Linked DNA regions of Homo sapiens: region 1 is linked to region 2. Evidence: fine-mapped expression QTL. Tissue or cell type: whole blood. Region 2 holds a variant in brackets; the other region holds the start of a gene. All regions are shown on one strand. Distances are between the middles of the regions.

Evidence for each region. PIP is the estimated chance that this variant, and not a neighbour inherited with it, causes the effect.
Region 1: RAB43 starts here. The variant in region 2 is fine-mapped to the expression of RAB43 in whole blood (TOPMed, PIP 0.92).

Annotation. Positions count from the first base shown.
Region 1 is chr3:129,118,064-129,126,152 of GRCh38, forward strand. RAB43 (RAB43, member RAS oncogene family) reads right to left here and starts at 3,741. Exons shown (of 3, transcript NM_198490.3): 1 at 3,223-3,741. The coding sequence starts at 3,426. The region is part of intron 11 of ISY1-RAB43 (ISY1-RAB43 readthrough); the gene reads right to left. RefSeq lists an enhancer at 1,825-2,770 and silencers at 3,551-3,730, 3,751-3,970.
Region 2 is chr3:129,191,575-129,199,676 of GRCh38, forward strand. It overlaps LOC105374101 (a long non-coding RNA gene), which reads left to right. Exons shown (of 2, transcript XR_924469.3): 2 at 4,491-4,730. Among named protein-coding and RNA genes, the nearest start is that of CNBP, 12 kb to the left of the region's middle. The variant G/A (reference allele first, on the strand shown) is at 3,623.

The sequences.
Region 1 (8,089 bases), 74 kb before region 2:
GCATTTGCGTTGGGACCTGAATGATGAAGTAGCAGTTACGTGGGGATCTAGAGGCAGAGTATGATGGGCACGGGAAGAGATGCAAAGGTCCTGAGGCAGGGGTAAGCCCACCATGTTGAAGGGCTAGTGAAGCTGGAGAGCAGGCAGTGAAGGGTAGAGATGGGCCTCTGTCTGCCTCTCCAACTTTGTCTCCTTCCAGAGGTCCATCTCTTTGGGGAAGGTGTTTGGAGGTTATTCTGGTTGTAATGGGAAGTGGCTACAGAAATAAAGTAATTTGATTAAATCTGTGATTCTCAAATGTTTCGGTTTTTTTAGCAGGAGAATTCTTTAGTCAAATAACAAGAATTTCAACCTACAACTAGATAAAGGTATTGCTCTGACTGGTTGGGAAGCTAGTTAAAGCCCTTCTGACCCTCTCTCTGACCTCTTGGCTTTTCTCCTTACCTTTCAGTACCTCCAAGCTCACAGGAGCTAGAAAACCACCAGGTGATCCATCTCTAAGCTTCCTGAAGCTCTAATAAAACCCAGCATCATTGTAAAGAATCACAGGGAAAGCTTTAGGATATAAGACTGGATGCTTGCTGGACAAGCATCTCGGGCTTCCCAAGACAGGCCCTGAGAAGGTTTATTTTATTTTATTCTAAATAGATACCACGTCTCACTATGCTGGCCAGGCTCATCTCGAACTCTTGACATCCAGCAATCTTCCTGCCTCGGCCTCCCAAAGTGCTGGGATTGCAGGCATGAGCCACTGCACCCGGCCCCTGGAAAGGTTTTACACTGAATCCCTGATGTGCACTTGCTTTCCACAGAAAAAACAACAATAAGCTCTGGTTCATCAAGGCTTTCAGTTAAAATCACACTGCTGAAACTACAGAGACAAAAAACAGATCGGGGGTTGCCACAGGATGAGGTGAAAGGAACTGACTACAGAAGAACAAAAGAACTTTCTGGGTTGGTGGAAAAATTCTCCATCTTGATAGTGATGTGGCTGCTTGTCTGTGTAAGTTTGAGAAGTTCATAGACCTGTAACACCTCAAGTGGTGAAGGTTTACCGTGTGTAAATTAGACCTCAAAAAACTTGACTTAAAATCACATTGCCAAAAGACTACTCAGAGGCACTTTACAGATGGAGGAGGGAAAATGGCTTGCTCCTGCTGCGGCAGCGGACCCCAGGAAGCCTGACTCGAAGGACAGTGTTCCCTCAAGTTCACGGCTGCCCAGCTTTAATTTGGAGCCTCTGCAGTGAGTTAGACTTCAGGTTTTCCTGCCGGCAAAATGAGGTGGTAAACAATTGCCAGAGGCTTCCCCACCACAGACAACGGGATTCTGAAAAGCTGTCCACTATGGGGGAGAAATCTGCTTTGGAGTCAGAAAAACTGGGAAAAATATTCCCACCTCTATCACTTCTTAGCTGTGTGCCCAGGCTCCATCCTGTGTGAGCGGGGGTAAGAATTCCCTCCAGTCAGCAGAGAATGCACCTGTAACCCAGCTGATTCCCAACAGCCTCTCAAGAAGGTCAGCGGCTATAACTTGGAGAGGTGTTTACCACAGCTACACAGCTCTTCTGCTCCCTGGGCCCCGGGCTGCTTCCTAGGAAGGACAATCTGGAGGCAACCATAAGGAAAGAAAATAACGAACTGCCTGGCCCTGCATTGCATAACCCGTGCGCAGTAAACCAGGAGCTCTGCTGGGACACAGTCTGTTATCTCAACAGGTAAACAGGAACCCTGCCCCCTCCCTGACCACCGTCAGCACTGGGCCACCACAGACACTCCAGACACAGACCGATAGCACATGAGGAGGACACCACTGCTCTTTAGCCTGTATTTTCACACTCCCATTTCCCTGCAGCTGCTGGCATCATCACTGGGCACACTCAATAACGGACACTCCACCCACTCCAGCCCTTCCCTGGCTACCTGCTCCAAAAGGGTGGTCCCGAGTGACTCAAAGCTGCCTTCTGCACCTTGCTCTTTTCCATCCACGGAGACCAAAACACAGACCCCAGAAGACGATTAAAATATAATAATAATAAAACCCCTCAGGCAGGAGTTTCTGCTTCCCCGTCACATCTACTGAGAGGCACTGTGGACACATAAAGACTGTTGACTTACTTTTTTCTCCACCTTGGGGCAGGAGGGAGGCAACACCCAGAAATTATCCCAATTTTATAGAAACAAAGACAAAGAGCTACATATCCTAGCCAAAGGCAACAAGGAGCAGGCCTAGAGCCACCCGGAGAGGCAGAGCCCAGCAGCAGCAAGGCTCCAGTGACTCCCATCTCCCTGGCAGAGATCGTCCCAGCCCTGTGCCCTGAGGGTGTCCTGAAGATCATGGGGGCTCGAAACCATGAAAGCAAGCAAAGATTTCTGTACAGTGCGGTTCAGAAAAGTTACTGAGTGCCTTCAGCCCAGGATCTCCTGGTTGATTAGGGAGTACTAACACCTAGGTTAAGAAACTCTGATTTCATTCATCACAAATATTTATCAAACCACTGCCAGGACATTGTGGCAACCACATCCTGCTGTTTTTATTCGGAGCCATTGCCAAAGCTTGGTTCTCTCCCCCACCTTCCGGTATCTGTGAAGTTTTCAGTTTCTATCAAACTCCAGCTGGGGGAGGGAACCGGGGCTGGCCCTAGTCGAGTAAAGTTCCACCACCAGGTCCACAAAGAGACTGCAGGGAGGCGTGGCCAGGCCGGAAATTCTGACAAAAAGTTTTGGCCCTCTGGTCCTAAAAGCAACTACTTCCTGATCGCTCCTAGTCCTGGGGTGGGGATGCAGTTCTCTGGCTGAGTGCCCCGCCGGTGGGCTGAGCTGGGGGCTGCCATCGCGGTGGATGGAGGTGGGGGGTCTGATCTCCGCACTCCAAGGCGCTCCGCTAGTACCTGGAACAGGGGAGTCTAACCCCCTGCCTTCCAATGGCTAAAGTTATTTTGGAGCACAGTCCCCTCCTAGGGTGTGAGCTCCGGAGGGCAGGGCCGCCTCCTCCACACTCCCTCGCCCCCCCCCCCCCCAGCAACCCACGGCCGGCGCTTTGAGGACTTGAACCCGGCCCAGACCCCGGGGCCCAGGCCTGCTCCGACCCGAGGAAGGAAAAAGGGGAAGCCAAAGGAAACTTCAGATGGACGCGGGGTGCGCTCGCCGCGGCCAGGGGCTCCGCTGCCCCCGCCCCACCCTCCGAGGGAGCGCCTTCCAGGGGCCCTGGCCGGCCTCCCACCTTGACCCGCTTGCCCTGGATCTCCAGCGTCTTCATGGTGAAGTCGACGCCGATGGTGCTTCCCTGGCGCTCCGAGAAGGCGCCGGTCTTGAAGCGCTGCACCACGCACGTCTTGCCCACGCTTGCGTCGCCCACCAGCACCAGCTTGAACAGGAAATCGTACTGCTCGTCCGGGTCCCCCGGGCCTGGGCCCGGCCCTGCCATGGCCTAGAAGAAGCCGAAGGGCCGGCGCTCTGGACGCTGGGACCGGCCTGAGCTCACGCAAGCCGCGGGCCGAGCTCCGCCCGCTCCAGCCCACGGGCCGCCTGGCTACGTGGAGCCGCCGCAACACCTGAACCCCCAGCACTGCCGACCGCCTGCCTCGGCCTCGGCCCCGCCCCACCCCGGCTGGCTCCCGCCCCGGCCCGGCTCGGCCCCGCCCGGACCCGGTGCCCCGCGGGTTCGGCTCCCCCCCGGACCCGCCAAGCCGGGCCCTCCGCAAAGCTCCGGCCGGTCCTCAGCTCCGTGCCACACCAGTCTGGCCTGTAGGCCCGCCCCAGCCCGCCCCCGCCCGCCCCCGGCTCCGCCCTCAGGCTGGCACCCACTCCGCCCCCAGCCCAACCCTCGGGCCCACCTCAGCCCGACCCGGGTTCCGCCTACGTCCCCGCCCCCGACTCCGCCCTCAGCTCCGACCTCGACTCCGCCCCCAGGCCCACCTCAGCGCGCCCCGACTCCGACCCGACTCTGCCCTCAGCCCGACCTCGACTCCGCCCACAGGACCACCTCAGCCCGCCCCGACTCCGCCCTCAGCCCGAACTCGACTCCGTCCCCAGCTCCGACCTCGACTCTGCCTTCAGGCCCACCTCAGCCCTCCCCGACTCCGCCTTCAGCCCGACCTCGACTCCGCCCTCAGGCCCACCTCAGCACACCGCCCCGACTCCGCCCACAGGCCCACCTCAGCCCGCCCCGACTCCGCCCTCAGGCTCACCTCAGCTCTGACTCCGCCCCACCCGACTCCGCCCTCAGCCCCGACCCCAGCCCGACCCCGCCCTCAGCACCTCGGCCCCTCCTCCATCAACACCCCGGCGCGCCCACACCGCGGATCCGTCTGGCCCCCAAACCGCTGCCCACCCCGACCCTTCATCAGCTGGGACCCCCAGGTGCTGTCCCGCGCCTCCTGCTCGCCCCCCACCCAGGCCTGGTCCGCCTGCCCGGGATCCCCTACCTGCTGCCTCCCAGACCGCCGGTCAGGGACAGGCGGAGACCATGGCTGGAGCTCCGGGCCTGCAGGCCTAGACTAAGAATGACCCCCTCCGGAATGGATCACGGAGGAAGGGGACGACCACAGCAGTGTCACCTGAGTGCCCACTCTGACAGGCGGGCAGTGCAGTCTCCGAGAGTGGTGGGGGTCGCTCTTCCCAGGGGCGGAAGGGAAGGGAGGGAGCAGGCTGCAGAAGGCCAGAATCCAGGCTGGCTACAAAACTGCGGAGGAGCCCAAAATCCTTGTGAGGAGAGGACCCAGGGCCCCATTTGATGGGAAGCTAGGCCAGAAGGAGGAGCTGGGAGCTCTTGTCTCCAAAAGGCAGCCTAGCAGTGGTTGAAGCAGCTGCTAAACGGCTGGATGACCCAGCTCAGAGCAGCTACAGGCCCATTTGGGAAACTGACCCAGCCAAAAAGCACCAGTCTAGGAAGAGGAACAGAAAAACTTGAAGGGATTTCTGAGGAAGGGCAGACCAACTCCTGAGTTGGCCCAGTGAACCAGGGCGCCTCAGAGAAAGGAGACCCAAACATCTGTAAGAAGCTTATACTAGATCCAACAGGACTGGGCTTCCCAGCTCCGAAGATGGGAAGGAATTGACAGCACCCCTTACCCCTCTAGACAGCTTCCTTGTGGCACTCCAATTCCAGGTATTCAACATATTTAATGAATGGCTACTACAGGCGGGCATTGTCCTGGGGCCTTGTAATGCACCTGTGGACAAAGCAGACAAAAATCCAGGAGAAAAGGGGAAAGTCTTCAAGCTGAAGGAGACTTCGCAGAGAGCAAGTCCCCCAGTGCCACTGTGAGGACCCCAGCCAACCTTTCAGGTCAAGATAGAAAGGGACTGAATGAGCAGTCTGCAAAGGCAGACCCCGTGGAGAAGGCAGAAGAGTTGTTTCTTCTGAAAGTTTGAACTCCACTCCCATGGGAAATACCCAACAGAATCAGACAGGAAACCCCAAAGTGCCACTGAAAAGCAATTGAGAGCCCCACTTTGGTACACCTGATGGGAGCGGAGAGTTAGAGAGGCAGGAAATAACCTCCACTCCAGGGTAGAAGTAGACAGGAGATGGGATGGAAGGTTTCTGCATGCTGGGACTAGCTCAGGTCAAAGTCCAGAACTCCAGAAAACAAGGCCTGCCCCCAGCTCAGAGCAGCTACCACAGCACAAAATGGTGTGGAATCCAGGAGCCAGGATGAAGCGTAGGGGTAGACGGTGGTTGGATAGCTAACTGGCCTTTCCACTGCTCTAGCCTGGAACTGGTTGGGCTGGGGCAGGGGACATGTTGGTCTGAGTATAGATTTTGTCAGAAAACCCAGGCACCACTCCCTTGCCTTTGCGGGGTGATTCTAAAATTGGACTGTGGTAAGGGTTGCACAACTCCTCAAGTTTATTAAAATCATTAAAATGTAAACTTACAACCTGTGGGTTTTATGGTATGTAAATTATACCTCAATAAAGCTGTCTAATATCTGCATTTCCTCTTTTGGTGGTAAATTCCTGAGTAGCACAGTGGCATTTTATTTGAAATGGAATCATGCTAATTTGAAATGCAGCAATTAAAAAATATTTATGTTTCATTTAATACACCAAATTTGAAAAAATGTATATTGCACTTTTTTTTTTTTTGAGACGGAGTCTCGCTCTGTCACCCAGGCTGGAGTACAGTGGCGCGATCTCGGCTCACTGCAAGCTCCGCCTCCCGGATTCACGCCATTCTCCCGCCTCAGCCTCCCGAGTAGCTGGGACTACAGGCGCCCGCCACCATGCCCAGCTAATTTTTTGTATTTTTAGTAGAGACGGGGTTTCACCGTGTTAGCCAGGATGGTCTCGATCTCCTGACCTCATGATCCACCCACCTCGGCCTCCCAAAGTGCTGAGATTACAGTCGTGAACCACCGCACCCGGCCTATATTGCAAAATTTTTAAAATAGGTCAAGAATTTAGTTGCCGGGCACGGTGGCTCACGCCTGTAATCCCAGCACTTTGGGAGGCTAAGATGGGCGGATCACGAGGTCAGGAGATCGTGACCACCCTGGCTAACATGGTGAAACTCCGTCTCTACTAAAAATACAAAAAATTAGCCGGGTGTGTTGGCCGGCGCCTGTAGTCCCAGCTACTCAGAGGCTGAGGCAGGAGAATGGCGTGAACCCAGGAGGTGGAGCTTGCAGTGAGCCAACATGATGCCACTGCACTCCAGCCTGGGCGACAGAGCGAGACTCTGTCTCAAAAAAAAAAAAAAAAAAGAAAGAAAGAAAAAAAAATTGGTCAAGAATTTAACTTTTTTTTTGAGACAGAGTTTCACTCTTGTTGCCCAGGATGGAGTGCAATGGCCTGATCTTGGCTCACTGCAACCTCAAGCAATTCTCCTGCCTCAGCCTCCCCAGTAACTGGGATTACAGGCGTGTGCCACCACACCCAACTAATTTTCGTATTTTTAGTAGAGACAGTGTTTTGCTGTGTTGGCCAGGCTGGTCTTGAACTCCTGACCTCAGGTGACCCGCCCACCTCGGCCTCCCAAAGTGCTGGGATTACAGGCATGAGCCACCATGCCCGGCCAAGAAACATATTTATTTTATTTTATTTTTGAGACACAGTCTCACTCTGTTGCCCAGGCTGGAGTGCAGTGGCGCGATCTCTGCACACTGCAACCTCCGCCTCCCGGGTTCACACCATTCTCCTGCCTCAGCCTCCTGAGTAGCTGGGACTACAGGCTCCAGCCACCATGCCTGGCTAATTTTTTATATTTTTAGTAGAGACGGGGTTTCACTGTGTTAGCCAGGATGGTCTCAATCTCCTGACTTTGTGATCCACCCACCTCAGCCTCCCAAACTGCTGGGATTACAGGCATGAGCCACCGCGCCCGGCCAAGAATTTAACATTCTTAAAGCTAGTGGTGGGTGAGCTGAATGCATTTTAACTGTTTGTGTCATTGCCATGCAGTGGCACCATCTCAGATGATAAAGAGGGTATCCCATACTGGCAATGTTCCCTGGATCAGACCTCCTCCAAGTGGCTAAAGGGACATTCGTACCTGGTTTTCTCCTTCCTTCTTTCTCCTTTCATCTTTTTCTTTCTACACTTGCCATTATTAAAATATAAACCTACAACACTATCAGACAAGTTTTCTTCTTTTTTTGGGGGGGTAGGGGTGTGGGGGAGACAGCGTCTTCCTCTGTTGCCCAGGCTGGAGTGCAGCGGTACAATCACGGCTCACTGCCACCTCAAATCTCCAGGGCTCAAGCCATACTCCCAACTCAGCCTCTTGTACTCGGCCACAGGCCTGGGACCACAGACGTGCGTTACTACATCCAGCTAATTTTTTTATTTTTTGTAGAGGTCTTATTATGTTGCCCAGGCTGGTCTTGAACTCCTGGGCTCAAGCAAATGATACTCCTGCCATGGCCTCCCAAAGTGCTGGGATTACAGGTGTGCGTCACCACGCTCGGCCCCAAATTTTCTTTATGTGGTGATGCCAAGGCTAGTGCTGAAAATGTGCCCCCAAGTGAAAAAACACCATGAAGGCCAGATGCCAACCACAATACCCTGTGTCTTTCATACAGAGGGGTGCTTGCTACAAAATATTACAAAATTAAAAGTAGGATTGTGAGATTCCGTGTTGTAAT
Region 2 (8,102 bases):
CACCACGCCCAGCTAATTTTTGTAGTTTTAGTAGAGATGGGGTTTCACCTTGTTGGTCAGGCTGGGCTTGAACTCCTGACCTCAGGTGATCCACCTGCCTTGGCCTCCCAAAGTGCTGTCATTACAGGCCTGACCCACCATGCCCAGCCTTAAATATTATTTTTTAAAAAGTATGGCTTCCCTAGGCACACTGCTTTTAGAGTACCCCTGCTCCACAAGGAGCAGTTAAAAAATGTGTGTATACATTAACATATGTATGTGTATGTGTATACATGTGATATATATTCCAAACCATACATGCACCCTTAACATTTTTACATAAATAGTATTGTGTCTATTTGCTTGTGTTCCTGTACAAGAATGTAAGATATGTGAAGCAGAGACTTTATCTTGCTTTGTCTGTTTTCTGCTGTACTGCTAGCTCCTAGAACAGCTCCTGACACATGGTAAGCACCCAAGTATTTGTTGAATAAGTAAATATCAATCCGTAACTTGCTTTTTAAATTTGATATTGTGTCTCTAAGATCTATCTGCGTGTGTGTGTGTGTGTATATATATATATGTTCATTCTCATCAAGTTCATTACTTTATGCTGCTTTATATTATAAATAAACTATGTTCTATTTGTTCATTCACCTATTAGAGGATATTTACATTATTTTCACTCCTTTGCTATCATAAACCCTTACATGCAAATTTGCAAATTTTTTCAGGCCCATGCAGAATCATTTCTCTAGAGTATATATGCCCCAGAAGGTGAATGTTGAGCAATGAAGGGTGATATTTTAAATTTCACTGGTTGCTTGTCATATTACTCTCAAAAGTGGCCATAGCTAATTATACTCTCAGTAGCAGTGGATGAAGGCTTCATGTTTCTTACACCCTTGCCAGAACTTTATACTGTGAGATTTTAAAATTTGTTTGCCAATCTCATGGGTGAAACATGGTGTCTCTTTTTATTTAAATTTTTATTCAGGCTGGGCGCAGTGGCTCATGCCTGTAATCCCACCACTTTGGGAGGCCAAAGCGAGTGGATCACGAAGTCAGGAGATTGAGACCATCCTGGCCAACGTGGCGAAACCCCATCTCTACTAAAAATACAAAAAATTAGCTGGGCATGGTGGGGAGCACCTGTAGTCCCAGCTACTCAGGAGGCTGAGGCAGGAGAATCGCTTGAACCTGGGAGCGGAGGTTGCAGTGAGCCAAGATTGTGCCACTGCACTCCACCCTGAGCGAGACTCTGTCTCAAAAAAAAAAAAAAAAAATTTTATTCAGATAACTGTAGATTTCATATGTAGTCGAAAGAAATAATACGGAGAACTTGCATACCGTTAACCCAGATCCTACTGATGATAATACTTTGCAAAAGTATAGTCACAACCAGAATATCAAAATTGGCACAGTCCACCAATTTTGTACAAGTTTCCCTAGTTTTACTCAGACTCATTTTATGTGTGTGTGAATGCATTTAATTATATATAATTTTATGTCATATGTAGGTCCATGTATCCACCTCCACACTCAAGATACAGAACAGTTAAAACACAAGGATCTTCCTGTCGTGCAAAATCTCAGCTCACTGCAACCTCCACCTGCTGGGTTCAAGCAATTCTTGTGCCTCAGCCTCCCAAGTAGCTGGGACTACAGGGATGCATCACCACACCTGGCTAATTTTTGTATTTTTAGTAAAGACGGGGTTTTACCATGTTGGCCAGGCTGGTCTGGAACTCCTGGCCTCAAGTGATCAGCCTGCCTCGACCTCCCAAAGTACTGGGATTACTGGTGTGAGCCACTGCACCTGGCCTCCCCCTTCTTTTTAACCTCTGTTCTTCATTTGCAAGATTTTATCCTTTCAGGCTGGGCAAGGTGGCTCATGCCTGTAATCCTAGCACTTTGGGAGGCTAAGGCAGGCAGATCACTTGAGGTCAGGAGTTCGAAACCAGCCTGGCCAACATGGTGAAACCGCGTCTCTACTAAAAAAAAAAAAAAAAAGAAATACAAAAAATTAGACCAGGCGCGGTGGCTCACGCCTATAATCCCAGCACTTTGGGAGGCCAAGGCAGGCAGATCACGAGGTCAGGAGTTCGAGACCAGCCTGGCCAATGTGGTGAAACCCCGTCTCAACTAAAAATACAAAAATTAGCCAGGTGCAGTGGCGCGTGCCTGTAGTCCCAGATACTAGGGAGGCTGAGGCAGGAGAATTGCTTGAACCCAGGAGGTAGAGGTTACAGTGAGCCGAGATTGCACCACTGCACTCCAGCCTGGATGACAGGGAGAGACTCCATCTAAAAAAAATTAGCCAGGCGTGGTGGTGGGCACCTGTAATCCCAGCTACTTGGGATGCTGAGGCAGGAGAATCGCTTGAACCCAGGAGGCAGAGGTTTCAGTGAGCTGATATCGCACCACTGCACCCCTGCCTGGGTGATAGAGCAAGACTTCATCTCAAAAAAAAAAAAAAAAAGATTTTATCCTTTCAAAAATGTTGTATTCAATATTGTGTGTGGAAACTTAAAAAGAAAAAAAATAAAAATTAAACAAAATGTTGTATAAAAGGAACCATGTAGTATGTAACCGTTAGAGATTGGCTTTTTTCACTCAGCATATTCAGCACCAAGTTGTTGCATGTATCAGTAATCCAAGGCCGGGCACAGTGGCTCACACCTTTAATCCTAGCACTTTGGGAGGCCGAGGCAGGCGGATCACTGAGGCCAGGAGTTTGAGACTAGCCTGGACAACATGGTGAAACCCTGTCTCTACTAAAAATACAAGAAGTAGGCCGGGCGCGGTGGCTCACGCCTATAATCCCAGCACTTTGGGAGGCAGAGGCAGGTGGATTACAGGGTCAGGAGTTCAAGACCAGGCTGGCCAAGATGGTGAAACCCCCGTCTCTACTAAAAATATAAAAATTAGCCGGGCGTGGTGGCACACTCCTATAATCCCAGCTACTTGGGAAGCTAAGGCAAAGAACTGCTTAAACCTGGGAGGCGGAGGTTTCAGTGAGCTGAGATTGCACTACTGCACTCCAGCCTGGGTGACAGAGCGAGACTCCATCTCAAAAAATATATATATACAAAAATTAGCTGGACGTGATGGTGCATGCCTATAGTCACAGCTACTTGGAAGGCTGAGGCAGGCACATTGCTTGAACCTAGGAGGCAGAGGTTGCAGTGAGCCAAGACTGCACCAGTGCACTCTAGCCTGGGTGATAGAACGAGACTCCATCTCAAAAAAAAAACCAAGAAAAACAAAAAAAAATCCCTTTTATTGTTGGTATTCTATGGTATGGATGGACCACAGTCTGTTCAACCATCACTCATTGAAGGACCTATGTTTATTTCCAAGTTTAGGCTATTACAAATAAAGCTGCTGTTAACATTTATGTATAGGTTTTTTGTGCGAACATTAATTTCCATTTGGTGTCTCATTTTTTTCAATTAGCGTTTCCCAGATTACCAGTGGGGTTGAATATCTCTTCATATATTTGTAGACTATTCAGGTTTCCTCTTTGCTATTTTGCTTATTTCTTCTGTTGGGTTGTCTTTTTCTTACTACTTTGTAAGGGTTCTTTTTTTTTTAAGACGGAGTTTTGTGCAATCTCGGCTCACTGCAACCTCCGCCTCCC[G/A]GGTTCAAGCGATTCTCCTGCCTCAGCCTCCTGAGTATCTGGGATTACAGGCATGCACTACCATGCCCGGCTAATTTTGTATTTTTAGTGGAGACGGGGTTTCTCTATGTTGGTCAGGCTGGTCTTGAACTCCTGACCTGAGGTGATCCACCTGCCTCAGCCTCCCAAAGTGTTGGGATTACAGGCATGAGCCACCGCGCCCAGCCTAAAAGTTCTTTATATGTTCTGCATAGCAATCTTTTGTCAGTTATGTGAAACTTTGTGTTGACATTTTGGTGGTCATTGTTTCTCAACGTGCTGTAAAGTTTAGGAATAGATGAATGATTTCTGAAACTTGAATTTGGATCACTGATGAAGTGACCAAGGGGTTTCATTTGGGGCTGCCCACCTTGTGGAGCTTTGGGCCTGCTGCACCTTACATGTAGCAGTGTTTTCTTTGCATCCTTGCATGCCAGCGATACACTTTAATTGGTGGCACGTTAGGTTCTAGGCACACCATATCAAAACATCTACCTGCTTGAGGGCAGATGTCATGAGCACAGATCCTTTGCCTCGTTTTTTTGGAACATTCAGATACATTTATTGCATTGTAAAACCAGCCGTGTTTTCTGGCATTTTGACCAGCCCTCGGAAACTGCTGACATCATGATGTACTCCTTGCCTGGTGTTTCCATTTTCCCCAGCACTGCAGCTAGAATTTAGAATCCTGACTCACCCTTCAGCCAGCCACAGAGCATGCTGATTATTCTGGTACAGTCAGTGCTCACGAAGTGACTTTGCAAGGGGAAATAGCTTTTGGACAAGTCAAAGCCAGTGCAATTTCAGATAATAGCCCAGCTTTTCTTTTCTAACGTTCTCATCTGCTCAGATGCTGCTGCTTTCTCCCCTGATGGGAAGTGGAAGCCATGATTCTGCAGTCCTGGCCATAAAGCTGTGAATTGTACTAGCTGGCACAGCCAGTACTGCCCTACTGAGTTCAGTGAACTGTCCTTCTGATCTACACTGAGAGAGCCTGGCTGTGGTGCAATGCTCACAGTGAAGCCGTCTGCATAGCTGAGCTAACAATTCAAACTTCAGCTCTCATTTCAATAAATTACCTTATAAAACACTCACTGACCAAGATTACCTTGAGTAGCTTATTTATATGAATTTTGCAGTTACCCCAAATTAGCCATGGAGAAACTGATATACAATGTTTCTTATAATTTCCCCTCAAACCATAGCAAAAACATGAAGGGAAGTACTAGGATTTCTGGGAATATGGAATTTATATCTATGCCCCACAAACAATGTTAAAGAAAACGGGCTTTGGATATTTTCAAAGGCCTGTGGTGAGGATTAAATAAGGCATAATATATGAAAATGTTTTGTGAATTCCAAAATGTTTTACCAAGATAAAAGATTTTTAAAATCAGTTTCTGTCAGTTTCATACATCCAATCCTGAAATCAAGTCTACACTGATTTATTACATATAAGGAAATATTTTTGACGTGAATAGGCAATCATAGAATTTCTATTGTATTCGAATAATGATTGAAAGTAATTTTCTTTTTGAGATTTTGACTTCCCCATTTGAGGTAATATTCTCAAGGGACTAAATGTTACTGATGTTGAAGATTTATCCCAAATGAGGTTTGCTTTGGGTGACAGAATTCAAAGCTAGCTCTGAACAAAACTGAAATGGTGGCTAATACGATCCTTTCTGTGCCTCCCTTTTCTTTCCTTTTGGATACTTCAAATACACAGCTAGTTTCCTTGGGACATCCTAGGGCAGTCAGGGTCATTTCCTTCTCTCTCCAAGACTGACCTGCCACAATCCATCAGGGACTATGATTTTGTTGTAAATATTTAGAAAGATGGTGCACAACAATAGATTTGGCAAAAACTGAGCTGATGGCATGCAAGTGTAGCCAAGTGTGGGAATCCATACTTGGAATAATCTAAAGGAATGTTTAACGGTGGTAAAAGAGAAGTGCAGGAGATGGGGCAGCATTTTCAGGGCCTCTCACCTAATGAAATATTGGCATCTTACAGGCTTGAGGGTCACTTGTCTGATGATTTGTGTGCTAATTCTGTTGGAAGAGAAGATTCTCAAGAAATACACTATTGCCATTAAAAGTAAAACACAAGATTGTTTCCTCCCTTGAATATAGCAAGAACTCTGTAGAGTAATCAATGCTTTGGCCAGATATCCTTGAGAATTAATGTTTTTTAGATTGCAGGGAGAAGAAAAGAGGACAGAAACAAGTTTCTGTTTCATATTCCTTCTGTGTGGTGTTAGAGCAGAAGAACCCTAGGGAGTGCAGGGCTGGGGCCTGGGACATGTGAATGTCTGCACATTGGCAGTTCAGCAAGCTTTTCCTGTTGGCCTGCTATTCCCAGGAGACTGTCTATAGGGCTGCTTGGCAGCAGGTGAGGAAGGTGTGTATGTCTGAAAAATTCAGGATAGACAGACAACATCCCAAGTTTTGAACAACAATCCAACTGTGTGTGTGTGTGTGTGTATGCACCCGCATGTTCACAGCTGCACACAGCACCTTGCACTTCCTTTATTAATAGAAAACTGGAAGAATGATGCAGCAGGATTAAGCCCCAGGGTATTGACTGGGACTCGGGGAGACCTAAGGCACAACTAAAGGGTGGAATTTTTCTTTAATTTCTGTCTCTTTTTTCACATCTCCCTTTCCCCTTCCTTCCTGTTATCTTTCCAGTACTCATAGGTTGTGGTCTCAGCTGAATAAGAACCAGTAAATAACTTCCCATTGAGAAGTTAGGGGACATTGGCCAAGGTCTTAGCATTTCCAGGGTTTCTTCCAAGGGTCTTTCTTGAAGGCCACATTAAATCTCTTGTGGTAGATTTTCTAGAGAAGCCAAGGAGCAGTCTCCTTGAGTTTCCTCACATCAGACCTATAGACCCTTACTCACTTTCTCCTAATACCTACTTTGATATATTTCTTTTTTTCTTTTTTCTTTTTGAGAAGGGTCTCACTTTATCACCCAGGCTGGAGTGGTGCAGTGGCACGATCTTGACTCACTGCAACCTCTACCTCCTGGGTTTAAGTAATTCTCCTGCCTCAGCCTCCCAAGTAGCTGGAATTACAGGCACCCACAACCATGCCCAGCTAATTTTGTTGTTGTTGTTGTTTTGAGACAGAGTTTCGCTCTGTCTCCCAGGCTGGAATGCAGTGGCGTGATCACAGCTCACTGCAACCTCTGCCTCCCAGGTTCAAGTGATTCTCCTGCCTCAGCCTCCTGAGTAGCTGGGACTACAGGTGCCCGCCACCATGCCTGGCTAATTTTTGTACTTTTAGTAGAGGCAGGGTTTCACCATGTTGGCCAGGCTGGTCTCGAACTCCTGACCTCAAGTGATCCGCCCGCCTCGGCCTCCCAAAGTGCTGGGATTACAGGAGTGAGCCCCTGTGCCAAGCAATCTATTTCTATGTGAAGGAGAATACACTGGGTTGTTACACAGGGGCATAAAAGGTGAAATTATATCTTAGGATTCACAGTAGAGAGGAAAAAAAGCTAACTCTGCCAACTAAAATTATAGAAGGTCTTGAAAACAAATCTCATCATTTCATGAAAACAAATCTCATCATTTCATTATATGTTTCTAAATTGCAGGCTGGGTGCAGTGGCTCACGCCTGTAATCCCAGCACTTTGGGAGGCTGAGGTAAGATCACTTGAGGCCAGGAGTTTTGAGACTAGACTGGGCAACAAAGTGAGACCCCTGTCTCTACAAAAAAATTAAAAAATAAAAATTAGCCGAGTGTGGTGGCACATACCTAGAGTACTCTAGCCTGGGTGACAGAGCAAGACTGTCCCTAAAATAAAATAAATTAAGAGCAGACTCTACAGGCTCAGAGTAGACAAGGTCCTGGTATCTAATAGCGTACTTGGCACATGGGCCTTCAATGAACTATTTTTTTTTTTTTTTAGATGGAGTCTCGCTCTGTTGCCCAGGCTGGAGCACAGTAGTGCAATCTCGGCTCACTAAAAGCTCCGCCTCCCGGGTTCATGCCATTCTCCTGCCTCAGCCTCCCGAGTAGCTGGGACTACAGGCACCCGCCACCACGCCTGGCTAATTTTTTTTTTCAGTGGAGACGGCATTTCACCGTGTTAGCCAGGATTGTTTCGATCTCCTGACCTCGTGATCCGCCCACCTTGGCCTCCCAAAGTGCTGGGATTACAGACGTGAGCCACCGCGCCCAGCCAATGAACTATTATTGAATGAATACCTCATTTTCCCTCTTGGCATCACACCTGAGATTGCCTGATTTGTACGTTGTCCTCAGAGCCAGCATTTATTACATTGCATTTGAGAGTCGCTAAGACAAGGCATTTTCCACACGCTTTTCCTGTTTTTTAAGTACCTTCCAACCTTGATTTGCTGATAACAGCAGTTGGCTTGTATTTTATGCTGGCCTTTGCAATGATACAGCAAATGGAATCTGGAATCTCCGGAATCGATGTCAATA